Linked DNA regions of Homo sapiens: all the other regions are linked to region 4. Evidence: fine-mapped expression QTL. A gene starts in region 4. Each other region holds a variant in brackets. All regions are shown on one strand. Distances are between the middles of the regions. Region 1 overlaps FTCDNL1 (formiminotransferase cyclodeaminase N-terminal like). Region 2 overlaps LOC124906112 (a long non-coding RNA gene). Region 3 has its middle 21 kb from the start of FTCDNL1. Region 4 holds the start of FTCDNL1 (formiminotransferase cyclodeaminase N-terminal like).

Evidence for each region. PIP is the estimated chance that this variant, and not a neighbour inherited with it, causes the effect. A credible set is the group of variants that fine-mapping cannot tell apart.
Region 1: its variant is the best candidate, but not a certain one, in a credible set for the expression of FTCDNL1 in whole blood (INTERVAL, PIP 0.57).
Region 2: its variant is the best candidate, but not a certain one, in a credible set for the expression of FTCDNL1 in prefrontal cortex (BrainSeq, PIP 0.65).
Region 3: its variant is the best candidate, but not a certain one, in a credible set for the expression of FTCDNL1 in whole blood (INTERVAL, PIP 0.83).

The regions. Positions count from the first base shown.
Region 1 is chr2:199,810,789-199,813,479 of GRCh38, forward strand. It overlaps FTCDNL1 (formiminotransferase cyclodeaminase N-terminal like), which reads right to left. Exons shown (of 5, transcript NM_001363886.2): 5 at 1-1,936. The coding sequence ends at 1,917. Among named protein-coding and RNA genes, the nearest start is that of FTCDNL1, 39 kb to the right of the region's middle. The variant AT/A (reference allele first, on the strand shown) is at 1,583.
Region 2 is chr2:199,990,326-199,993,016 of GRCh38, forward strand. The region is part of intron 2 of LOC124906112 (a long non-coding RNA gene); the gene reads right to left. Among named protein-coding and RNA genes, the nearest start is that of MAIP1, 36 kb to the left of the region's middle. The variant T/G (reference allele first, on the strand shown) is at 1,043.
Region 3 is chr2:199,870,350-199,873,040 of GRCh38, forward strand. No RefSeq gene overlaps it. Among named protein-coding and RNA genes, the nearest start is that of FTCDNL1, 21 kb to the left of the region's middle. The variant C/G (reference allele first, on the strand shown) is at 1,435.
Region 4 is chr2:199,850,122-199,852,812 of GRCh38, forward strand. It overlaps FTCDNL1 (formiminotransferase cyclodeaminase N-terminal like), which reads right to left and starts at 1,071. Exons shown (of 5, transcript NM_001363886.2): 1 at 619-1,071. RefSeq lists a silencer at 852-1,131 and an enhancer at 963-1,537.

The DNA of each region.
Region 1 (2,691 bases), 39 kb before region 4:
CTCATCTTCAGCATGTGATCATTCCTTAGCTACTATTTCAACATTATTTTACTGTCATTACTTTTTCTTGCTACTTTCAAACTTATTGCTCCTGATGTCAGCATCCATCAGAGAAATGCCTTCTGGGTTCACTTTTCCCTAGACTACGATGGTTTGGGGGCTTTGTTGCCTAGCCTGGCTACTCTCATACTAATAGATGTTTTACAGAAAATCAGCACACGGAAACCACATTTCATCTTTTTCCCACACATGTACATAATGAAACATTTCAACTCCCGAGGCTGGGCCTCTTCCTCCTGGGAATTCTGCAGGAATGAATCAGATTACAGTATTTCCCCATAATGCTGATTTCATAAAAATTAAATTTCCTAACAGTCAATACATCTCTCTCTCATCATCTCATGTCCCAATCACTTACCCTAAATATCTTTAAGAATTATATCAGTTTTAACATTGCACAGAGTATAATTGGAATTTTTGTCAATCTTAATGTTGCCACTCTTTAACAGAAAACTTCCAAACATTTTTCTCTCATTTACCCCCCAATAAGTCATGTTACAAATAGCCTTATGTCCTAAAATCTAATGTACTTATCCTATTTTGACTCAAGGAATGGTAATATCTTTACCATCGTTCCAACAAATAGTTGGATCACACTCAGGTTTTGCTGAAGAGTATATAACACTGGGGGTTACATCAGCATGACTATTCAAAATCCTTACCAGGCCTGTAGTGCTTCACCATTACGCTTTGCTGTCCCATAGCTTTGATATGCCCAGTCACATTCAGTTATTCACATGCAATTCATCAGCCTGAGGGAGCAAGTCACTTTCAAAGGAAGTTCCTGCATGTGGACTTGGGGCTTTCCCCATGACATGGGTCATTCCATCCCTGTAGCCCTGGGACTTTTCCTGAATCCCTCACCCAGCAAATTCCAAGACATCCTCTTCCATTGCATGTCTAATAACTTCCCCCTGTTAGTAGAATTTCCAAAGTTGATCATTCTTGCTATAAATGAACTCATTGCCTAAGACAAATTATTAAAGATAAAGTAAGCTTAGACATAAGCCCTAAGGACAAGAGTTCAATAAAGAACATGACACGTACACTGTTCAGTGTCCCAACAGCGACTTACTTGATTGAAATGAAACTCTTATTTTTAAAATTCCTTCAAAAGCATAAAGTTCATTTTTTAAGCAAAATAAAACATCAGAAATAACTTTCATATGCTTTTAAATAAAATAAGAGGTAATCACTTAACACAGAATAATCATTTTTCAAACAGACCCTTGTTATATGTATTTTAAATTCTTCTAGTAAGCTTTAGTTACACAATATTTTTGTTTTATTACTATTTCTTATTCAAGTAGTGATAAAACGGAGACAATTAATGAATCTGAGATGTTTCTGACCTAATCAGGGTAGTAGTTTCCTCTCCAAGGTGGGGAAACTTCTCTCCCTTGGAAGGTGAAAGAAGAAAGAAAGAAAAAGAAGAGAAAATTTCTCTTTCTGCCCAAATTCACGCTTTTCCAATTTCCTCCATTTAATCCTTCCAAGTCAAAACCAATACGGTGATCCAATT[AT/A]ACTGAATCAAATTCTGTGTTTAAATCCAGCAGTCCCATTGACCTTATTTAAATGCTGAATTTGATTTTTTATGTTAATTTAAACCTACTAAGAAGGTATTTTAAATGAGAGAGATAATTAATCCCAGCAAATCGTATTTCTAGTTAAATGTCATATAATTAAAGTAATTCCACTTTTTGCTCTAAAATTAGAAACCTGATGTGAAAGTTTGTTTCTCAGTTTGCAGTTTCGCTCCACTCCCGCCTCCCGCAGATTGGCACTCAGCTGCTCTGGTGGCAGCACGGATCCCCTCACTGCAAGGCTGAAATTCCAATTTTCTTCCAACACAACTGTCACAACGCCCTGAAGCAAGCTAAAAACAAGGAAAAAAATCTTTGGTATGATTTCGTTTTCCATGTGTGCTTTAATGAAAAATTTATCATTCTAAATATTGGTGTTTACTCCTAGTTAAATATTTTTTTATCAAAAAGAAAAAGAAACTGAGATTCAGTCGCTATTATTTCACAGAGAAATATAACAGGCCTGATGTCTTCCTGACAATTCTGTTATTTTCTTGTGTGGAAACACTGTATTTATCATATACTGTATGGCTGGTGATTTAGATATTGTTGAGACCTTATGGTGAACTGATATGGATGTAAACTCTTTATGCCAGATTGTTTAAGCAGAAAAAAACCAAATGCACTTAATTAACATCTGATGTGTAGCTTTTGCAAACACAAATGCAATATTTGTGTTTGAGCACTGGCAGTAATGACTGTGAACTATGCTATTAATGTCTGGTTTAAAGATGCTTGTGGTAGGACCATGTCTGGAATAACACAAATAAAAAACTGCATTCAGACAAAACAATAGCGAAGAGCCCATTAGGAAAATGGAAAAGCAGCACTCAGAAGAAACACATGTATTTTTTTTCCCTTTAGATCAAAATTATTCTCAAAAATAGTTCCAGGCACCATCATTTTCAATCAATTAAAGGTGAAAGGATTCTATATATTTTAACTCTACAGAAAAGTGTTTCACTTTAGGAGTGCCAAAGTTGTTTAGGGGTGTCTTCAGAAGTTCCATTCATTATATTATACTCCTCTTTGGTGGCCAGTATTAAAG
Region 2 (2,691 bases), 140 kb after region 4:
TTTTTACTTGGTCTACCTGAGTCAAGGTGTAACAGGTCTCAGCATGAAGGGGTGAGGGTGGGGAGGCTGGCAGACCCAATCAAGAATTTTTACTCAGACTCTGAAGGTATGACTGACTGAGAATTGGGTTCACTAGGTTCTGGCCTATACAGGAGCTTTTTTGGAAAACAACCAAAATTACACACACACATAGACACACACATACACACAGACACACATAAACACACACACACACACACACACACACAGTCGTGTGCTGCATAATGACTTTTCAGTCATTTCAGATGGACCACAGATATGATGGCGGTCCCATAGGATTCTAATACTGTTTTAACATACCTTTCCTGTTTAGATAGGTTTAGATACACAAATACTCACCATTGTGCTATAACTGCCTACAGTATTCAGTACAGTAACATGCTGTACAGGTGTGTGGCTTAAGAGCAATAGGCTGTCGTCCCATATAGCCCAGGTGTGTAGTAGGCTATATCATCTAGGTTTGCATAAGTACACTCTATCATGTCCACATGATGACAAAATCACCTACCAACACATTCCTCAGATACTATCCCCATCATTAAGCAACACATGATTATGCATCTGTGTGTGTGTATGTGTGTGTGACTGTTAATGTAGGAACATATAGCAACGTATAGCAATAAACATACTTCCCTCACTTGGGGCATAAAATGTGTTGGTAAAGTGGAGTTTAAAAAAGTGCTCTTTAAAATCACAACAGCCTGAAGCTGCTCTGTTTCTAAGGGACTGGACTATTTCTCTAGGAGTAGATTGCCTTCTATTATTCGAAAGGCGAATATTCCTTTTCTTCTCTTATTCCCTGTTCCCATCTCATCACCCTCTCTCATTTGAAAGAACAGGAACATAGAATTAAACTGCTCTCCAAAAGAAATGATGAAGAGCAAGTGAAAAGGAGAAGAGGGGCTGAGAAATGTCACCAGCAAAAAGTCACCAGAGGGAGGGCAGTGGGGGTGGTAACTAAAGGAATTTTTTTTTTTTTTTTTTTTGAGACAGGGTCTCACAC[T/G]GTCACCCAGACTGGAGTGCAGTGTTGTGATCATAGCTCACTGCAGCCTCAAACTTCTGGGCTCCAGAGATCCTCCTGCTTCAGCCTCCCAAGTAGCTGGGACCACAGGTGCATGACACCATGCCCAGTTCATTTCTTAAAAAATTGTTTGTAGAGATGGGGTCTCACTTTGTTGCCCAGGCTGGCTTCAAATTCCAGCCTCAAGTGATTCCCCTGCCTTGGCCTCCCAAAGTGTTGGGATTACAGGTGTGAGCCACTGAGCCCAGCCCAAAAGGACTGCTAAGATATTTAATATTAAAATTTAAAGTTGTTTATTTCCTAGTGTTGTGGTATAGACACTATGGCCCCTGGCTGCCTCTTTGTCCCCAGCAATGCTCCAACACTTGAAGAAAGACTGGTCTATACTCAAATGTCTGATCGGTGATATCTGGGGCCAATAAAAAAGAGAAAGACTCATCTGGGTCATGTTGGAGCAGAAAGCTAAGAACAGCTGCATGAGATGAGATGTGAATGAGACTGAAAATTTACAGGGGCAGCAAATTAAAACCACAAGTGCTCATGAGAGTTTAAGACACCAGGCATTCACAAACATCCTGAGGAGGGTATTGCACTTTTGCAGGAAAGGGAGTTCTTCTCAACTATATGTAAATAGCAAAGAACGGGTACCTCTGCTGATCATCTGAGTTGCTTAACATTCAAATGACTGTGAAGGTAGGCCCAGACATCTCAAGAATCCACATGCTACTTCATATGTGGAGAACATTTGAGCCATTCATTCATTATTCAATAAGTATAGAGCCACTTCTACATACCAGACCTAGCAAGATATGATGGCAAACAAGATGGCCACAGTCCCTGACTTCATGGAGTTTACATTAGTGAGGGGGGAGTAGGGAGAAAAATGGGGAGAGATGATAAACATTTAAATACATAAATGGTCAGAATAATGATGGATTTTATGCAATATTAAAAATGGGGTGACGTAATAAAAAATACCAAAGTGGGTCATTTTAGGTAGAGTAGTCACTGAGGTCTCTTGAGGAAGTGACTCTTAAGGCCTAAAGACTTAGAAAGAATCCTCCACACAGCAAGCAAAGGGAAAAACACTCCGGGCAGAAGCCATAGCAGGCACAAAGGCCCTGAGGCAGAAAGAGACTGGAAAATCTCTGGAATCCATGGAAGGCCAATGACTAAAGACTAAAACTTCACGAGAAGGTTGGGAAGGGTCATGAGATGAGGTTTAAGGGTTAGACCATGGCCAGTAAAGGCTCTGAAGGCCAAGAAATGAAGTTTGGATGTCCTTTTAAGCCCAATGGGAAGACTAAAGAATTTTAAGCAAACCAATGACATCATCTGGTCCAAAGAATTCCCTGGATTGTCAGTATGGAGATGGTTGGAGGTCTTGACTAGAACAGTTTCAGCAGAGCAAAGGGAATGGAAACTGGATTGGATTGTGCTGTGGAGTGAATAGGAGTGAGAAGGTGGAGACAGTGTGCTCACAATCCTTCTAAGAGGTTTTGAGAAATGGGATAGCGGTTGGAGGGTAACGTGGGGTCAGGAGAGGGTCTTTATTTTTGTTTTGGTGTTTTCCTAAATGGGAAATAATACAGTATGTTTACATATGATGTCAGGAGTGATTCAGTCCAGAG
Region 3 (2,691 bases), 20 kb after region 4:
ATCTAGTTATGAAAAACTAAATTTTCCTTTTTTTTTTTTTTTTAACAAAACCCTGTGTGATTCTTCATTGTCTTTTTGGGTTCCCAAATCTAACCCTTCTTTACTTCCCCCACCCCCTAAACGTATAATGGAAATAGATTAAAGACAACAGCAGCTCCTACACCTGTGATGCTGTCCCTCTGAGAAGGAAAAGAAGGAAAAAACATTTAAAACCTGGGAATACATTCTGTCACAACAGAACTAGGTACAGTAGTTCAACTTCTAGAATAGGGAATGTAGGATTTTTCACCTTCATTCTTCAGAAGACATTTTTTTCTAAGTATCTATTATAATAACAAACTGCAATTCCATGACTACTTTCGTTGATGCTTGAACTTCCTCCAAGAGTTCATATTTCCTCACATTAGCCCCAGTTTTATTCAGTATTACAATGTAATTTTTGCATTCCAATCCTAAATCTGCTGGAGTACTTTATACAGACATGGGACATTTAACTTGCTGCAATAGGGTCAGAGACTTGGTTGGAAATGTTGGAAAAAAAAGTCCCTCTGTTGTCTCAATGTATTATTCATCCTGTAAAGCTCTAATTTTATTTTTGACATAGCAAAGCTGTCTCTAAAATGTTACCATGGAACCAGAAATAATTATTTTAGTAATGGACCTATGTCCTTTTCATCTTCTTTAGTTTATTTTAAATTTAAAAAATTTTTGCTTTTTTTAAATTTTAAATTAGAACAGGCAAGGCACAGTGGCTCATGCCCGTAATCCTGGCACTTTGGGAGGCCGAGGCAGGCAGATCACTTGAGCCCAGGAGTTCGAGACCAGCCTGGGCAACATGGTAAAAACCCCTTCTCTACAAAAAGTAGCTGGGCGTGGTGGCGCCTCAGCTACTCAGAAGGCTAAGGCAGGAGGAGATTTTGAGCCCGGGAGGTGAAGGTTTCAGTGAGCCATGATCGTGCCACCGCACTCCAGCCTTGGTGACAAAGTGAGTCTCTGTCTCTAAAATATATTTATATTTTATTTATTTATATGTGGATTTTCTACGGAGAGGTGAGTCAGTATCCTTAACCCCTACACTGTTCAAGGGTCAACTGTATTTCTCCGAAACTATTGCTCCGAGGTAGTCTCATTTATATACGTTAATTATAATTTTTAACCTAAGTAATTTCTGTTTTCTTTTTCTTTTTTTTTCTTTTTTTTTTTTTTTTTTGAGACGGACTTTCGCTCTTGTTACCCAGGCTGGAGTACAATGGCGCAATCTCGGCTCACTGCAAGCTCCGCCACCCTGGTTCACGCCATTCTCCTGCCTCAGCCTCCCGAGTAGCTGGGACTACAGGCGCCCGACACCACGCCCGGCTAATTTTTTGTATTTTTAGTAGAGACGGGGTTTCATCGTGTTAGTCAGGCTGGTCTCGATCTCCTGACCTCGTGAAC[C/G]GCCCGCCTCGGCCTCCCAAAGTGCTGGGATTACAGGCGTGAGCCACCACGTCCGGCCGTAATTTCTATTTTCATAGAAAATTGGGGAGTGGGAGGGAAAAGAGGTGGACAACCATGTTACACACCAGCATCCTTGCAGTCCTGCAGAGTTCATGAAAACGTTTAACACAACTTTCTACAGCCATACTTTATACCAATTTTCAAGGTGGCAAAAATGAACACAGTAAGAAACCCCAAGTTTGTCCTTCTGTGGCATATAAAAATAAGAAGCAAAAGCACAATCTTAAAAGTATGCTTAGTAGGTGCTGTTCATTTCTCTATCAGCCAGGAAGGATACTGGTTTTGAGGCTGATGTACTTATCAAGGACAATAACTGCCATGGCTTGTCAGTGCTTTGATGAAACCTCAGATGCATGACCTTCTGGTCAAACATCTGCAATTTCATATTGTTGGAGCATTGTGTTCCTGGAGGTTGTGGCTCTCTATAAGTTTGCTGTGGTTGAACCAAGAAGGGAAACGTGCAGATTTCTACAAAAATTATGATTCCATGAAAGATTTTAAGGAGATAAGGAAGGCTGGTATCTTTTATAATACAAAATAATTCTGGAATATGAAGAATTTCTTTGAGTTAAATTGCCTAGAAGTTTGTCACTGACTTGTGTTCCTGAACTATGAAACATGACTATGTGGGCTAAGAAATAATTTCTCTCTTGACAAATAAACAATTAACAAGTAAAAAAATAGATAATAATCAATGTTATAGTAACTTACAAATTATCTAGGCATTCAATGAATAGCCATTAATTAATTCAATTTAACATCAGCCTAAGGTTTTAAGTTATCAATAGATCTTGGAAATTATCTCCAAGTTGACATACTATGAAACATAATCACTGCTAAAATAAAATTTTGTTAGAGCAATGAGTCAATTTGGTTGAATACATATATAATTTTTATAACTTTAAATATTAAGTAGAAGTAGTGCTAGCTTATTTGATCAGTAAACCTGTACAAGTTTAGAAAGAATACACCCAAGTAGAATAAAAATTGATGCTTATATTGTACTTAACACTGATAAATCATAGAAGATAGCTGTTTTGTTATTAAACCAAAAATATTAAACTAGCCTTGCTTAGCAAAGACTTACCTAAATTATGTGACTTTGACTTGGTTTTTTTTTTTTTTGAGACGGAGTTTCACTCGTTAGCCAGGCTGACTGGAGTGCAGTGGCACAATCTCTGCTCACCGCAACCTCCG
Region 4 (2,691 bases):
GTAGCTAGCTCAGGTTTGCAGGCAGGTTTTCATATCATGTCCATCATCTCATCACTGAAAATTCATAAAAATTCTGTCATTAGGTTTTTCTAGATATTAATAACATTGTTGTAATAAAGCAACCCAGACCTCTCGTTTCTATGTAAACAAAAAATTGCTTTACACAAGGGGTGTGGGCGTCTTCTGGTTTTCATTTGTTTTCAGTGTGTTTATGCAGCTTAATTGTCTCATCAGGCACTTTCCCAACATAATTATGCTTTTTAACAAATGGTGTTTATGGCAACCCCTAACAGTGCAAAAGAAAGGATTAGTTTCATCCTCTCATTCCACATTTTGATTCCCTGTGGACAGCTAAATCACACAAAGATGGTGTTAGAAAAATTCACCTTCACAGCGAAGCTGAAATGAGCGGCAGTACCAGGCTCAGAAAGTGACCCAAACGCAAGCCCCCCAAAACACTCTGTGTTTGGGACAGGGAGATCCTAGTCCTCCCAGCTCATCCTTCAATTACCATTGGATGACCTCTGGTGATAGATTAAACACTCGGCCGTCCCCCGCCCCCGCGCCTCCCCACCCGCGGAGAACCTAGCCTAGCAAGTGCAAAGTGCAGCAGTTCACCTGCCCCCTGCGCACGCACCCCACCGGCACTTGGAGGCCGCAAGGACGCTCGCCAGGCTGCCGCAACGCGTGCTGGGGCCAGAACCCCGCTGCTGGGATTCCCTGCGCGGTGCCGACTAGGTTCCTGGGTGGAGTGTCCCAGGACCACGTGGGCTGAAAGGGAACCCGAAGTGACTCCCGGCCTCCCCACAGGTCTCGCGGGACGCAGCAGCGGCGAGGGCGCGGGGTTGTGGCGCCTGGGAGCGAGGGGCAGCCGGCGGCTGCGCTGCCCCGGCCGAGCTCTCGAACCAGCGGCCGCGCCTGCCGCTCTGCGGTTTGGGAGGGGAGCGGACCTGCGAGCGCCGAAGGGCGGTGGGGCAGGGCGACCGCCCAGCCCAAGTCGCCGCCGCGCGTGGCCCGCGCGCAGCCTCCGCCGCCGCGCGTGGCCCGCGCGCAGCGTCTGCCGCCGGCTCCGCCTCCCGGACGCCCGGAGCGCGCCCCACCCCAGCCGCACACCGACCGGGCTGGCTCTGCCTCTCCCTCCCTGACCCGGCACCACGTGCCTGGCGTCCTTGAACGCTTCAGATTTTTATCAGTGTTGCCTTTTCGTTTGCTCTTCCGTATCGCCAGACCCTCCACAATTCTCTAGTCAATTAATGACTTTAAAGGGGCATTGGCATCTAATGATCAGGTCTTTGCCTATTGATCATGCACCAGCAGGGGGCTCTTCTCTCGTTTCCTTGGAAGGGACACACGCACTCACACACACCCTTCTGGTAAATCCCCTCCTGGAGGATTAGTGCCCCCCGTGACTGTGAACTGGACCCACCCCGGGACAAAAGCAGTCCTTGCGCATACCCATTTAGTCAAAGTTACAACGAATATGAATCAGGCTTCCGCATTTCCTTTTTTTCTAGGCCACTCAACCTTGAAAACACATTTCGCTTCCAAAAAATCAGGACCTGCTTTTTTTTTTTTCGTGTAGCAAGGATTAAATGTCACCATTTTGATCCAATTTTGTTCCTGTAGTGAAATAATCACTAAATAACTACTTTGACGGAATAAATTAATTTTTAAATCTATTTTTTATTTTCTAATTATAATTTTTAAACACAGATTTGAGGAAATTAACATTTATGTGGACATTTGGTTTCTAGCCTAATGTGGCATAAAAATAAGTAACATAATGAGTGTTAAAAAAAATCAGGTTCATGATGCTTCTCACATCATCATCATTGTACTTAGATGTCACAACAGTATTATGTGCGATTATGTCAGATCCAGCCTTCTCCATCTCGGAGTGTTGGCAGGTAGGAGGGTTGTTGGCAAGAGGAGGGGTGTTAACCTCAGGATCCTGGATCCATTCCAAGGCTGGTAATTACATTCTGCCAGCCAAAATTCATCCCATAATTTTAATTGGATAAATCCTTTCTGGCCTAAGCTACTGCTATGCCTGTCAAACTGTTGCCACATTTCACCCCAGAGGTGTCTGTGTTTTAGTTGCAAGAATCAGTCCCTTTGAGGTTGGCTTATCTGTTTAAATCCTCAAAATGCACTGGGATCCTATGGAATTAAATATATATTTAGGTATTTTTTTCTACTAAATCTGCATAGAAGTGCATAAAGTAGATACATACCCATGTTATTACCTAAAGACCAATACCTATCTAATGTCAGCATTCACTAGATAATTTTGAGAGCTTTTTAATCAGACCAATATTCCTAACTTTCTTCATCTTCTCTTTTGAGAGCTTTTTTGGCCTCTAGCTTTAGCTTCCGTTTTCCAAAAAAAGTAATGTGGTGTCCAAATGTTCCTTCCATGGTAGGGCAAAGAACCAGAATCCCCTGTATTTCACCTTTCCAAACAATCGGATAATGATACTACTTGCCAAATGAGACAGCGTAATAACATTACATCTAATCTTATAATATTTCTCCAGAGAAAACAGTGTGACACCTGGGGGCTTCATGGTTCTAGCTGTAGAAACTGCCAGAAGGAAAGCTTTTCCCCCCACAGCTCCTAATCCTCTCTTTCTCCCGAGAGACTGTTCCTTACGGAGCTACAGGCTATGGGGGCATTAAGTAAGATAACAT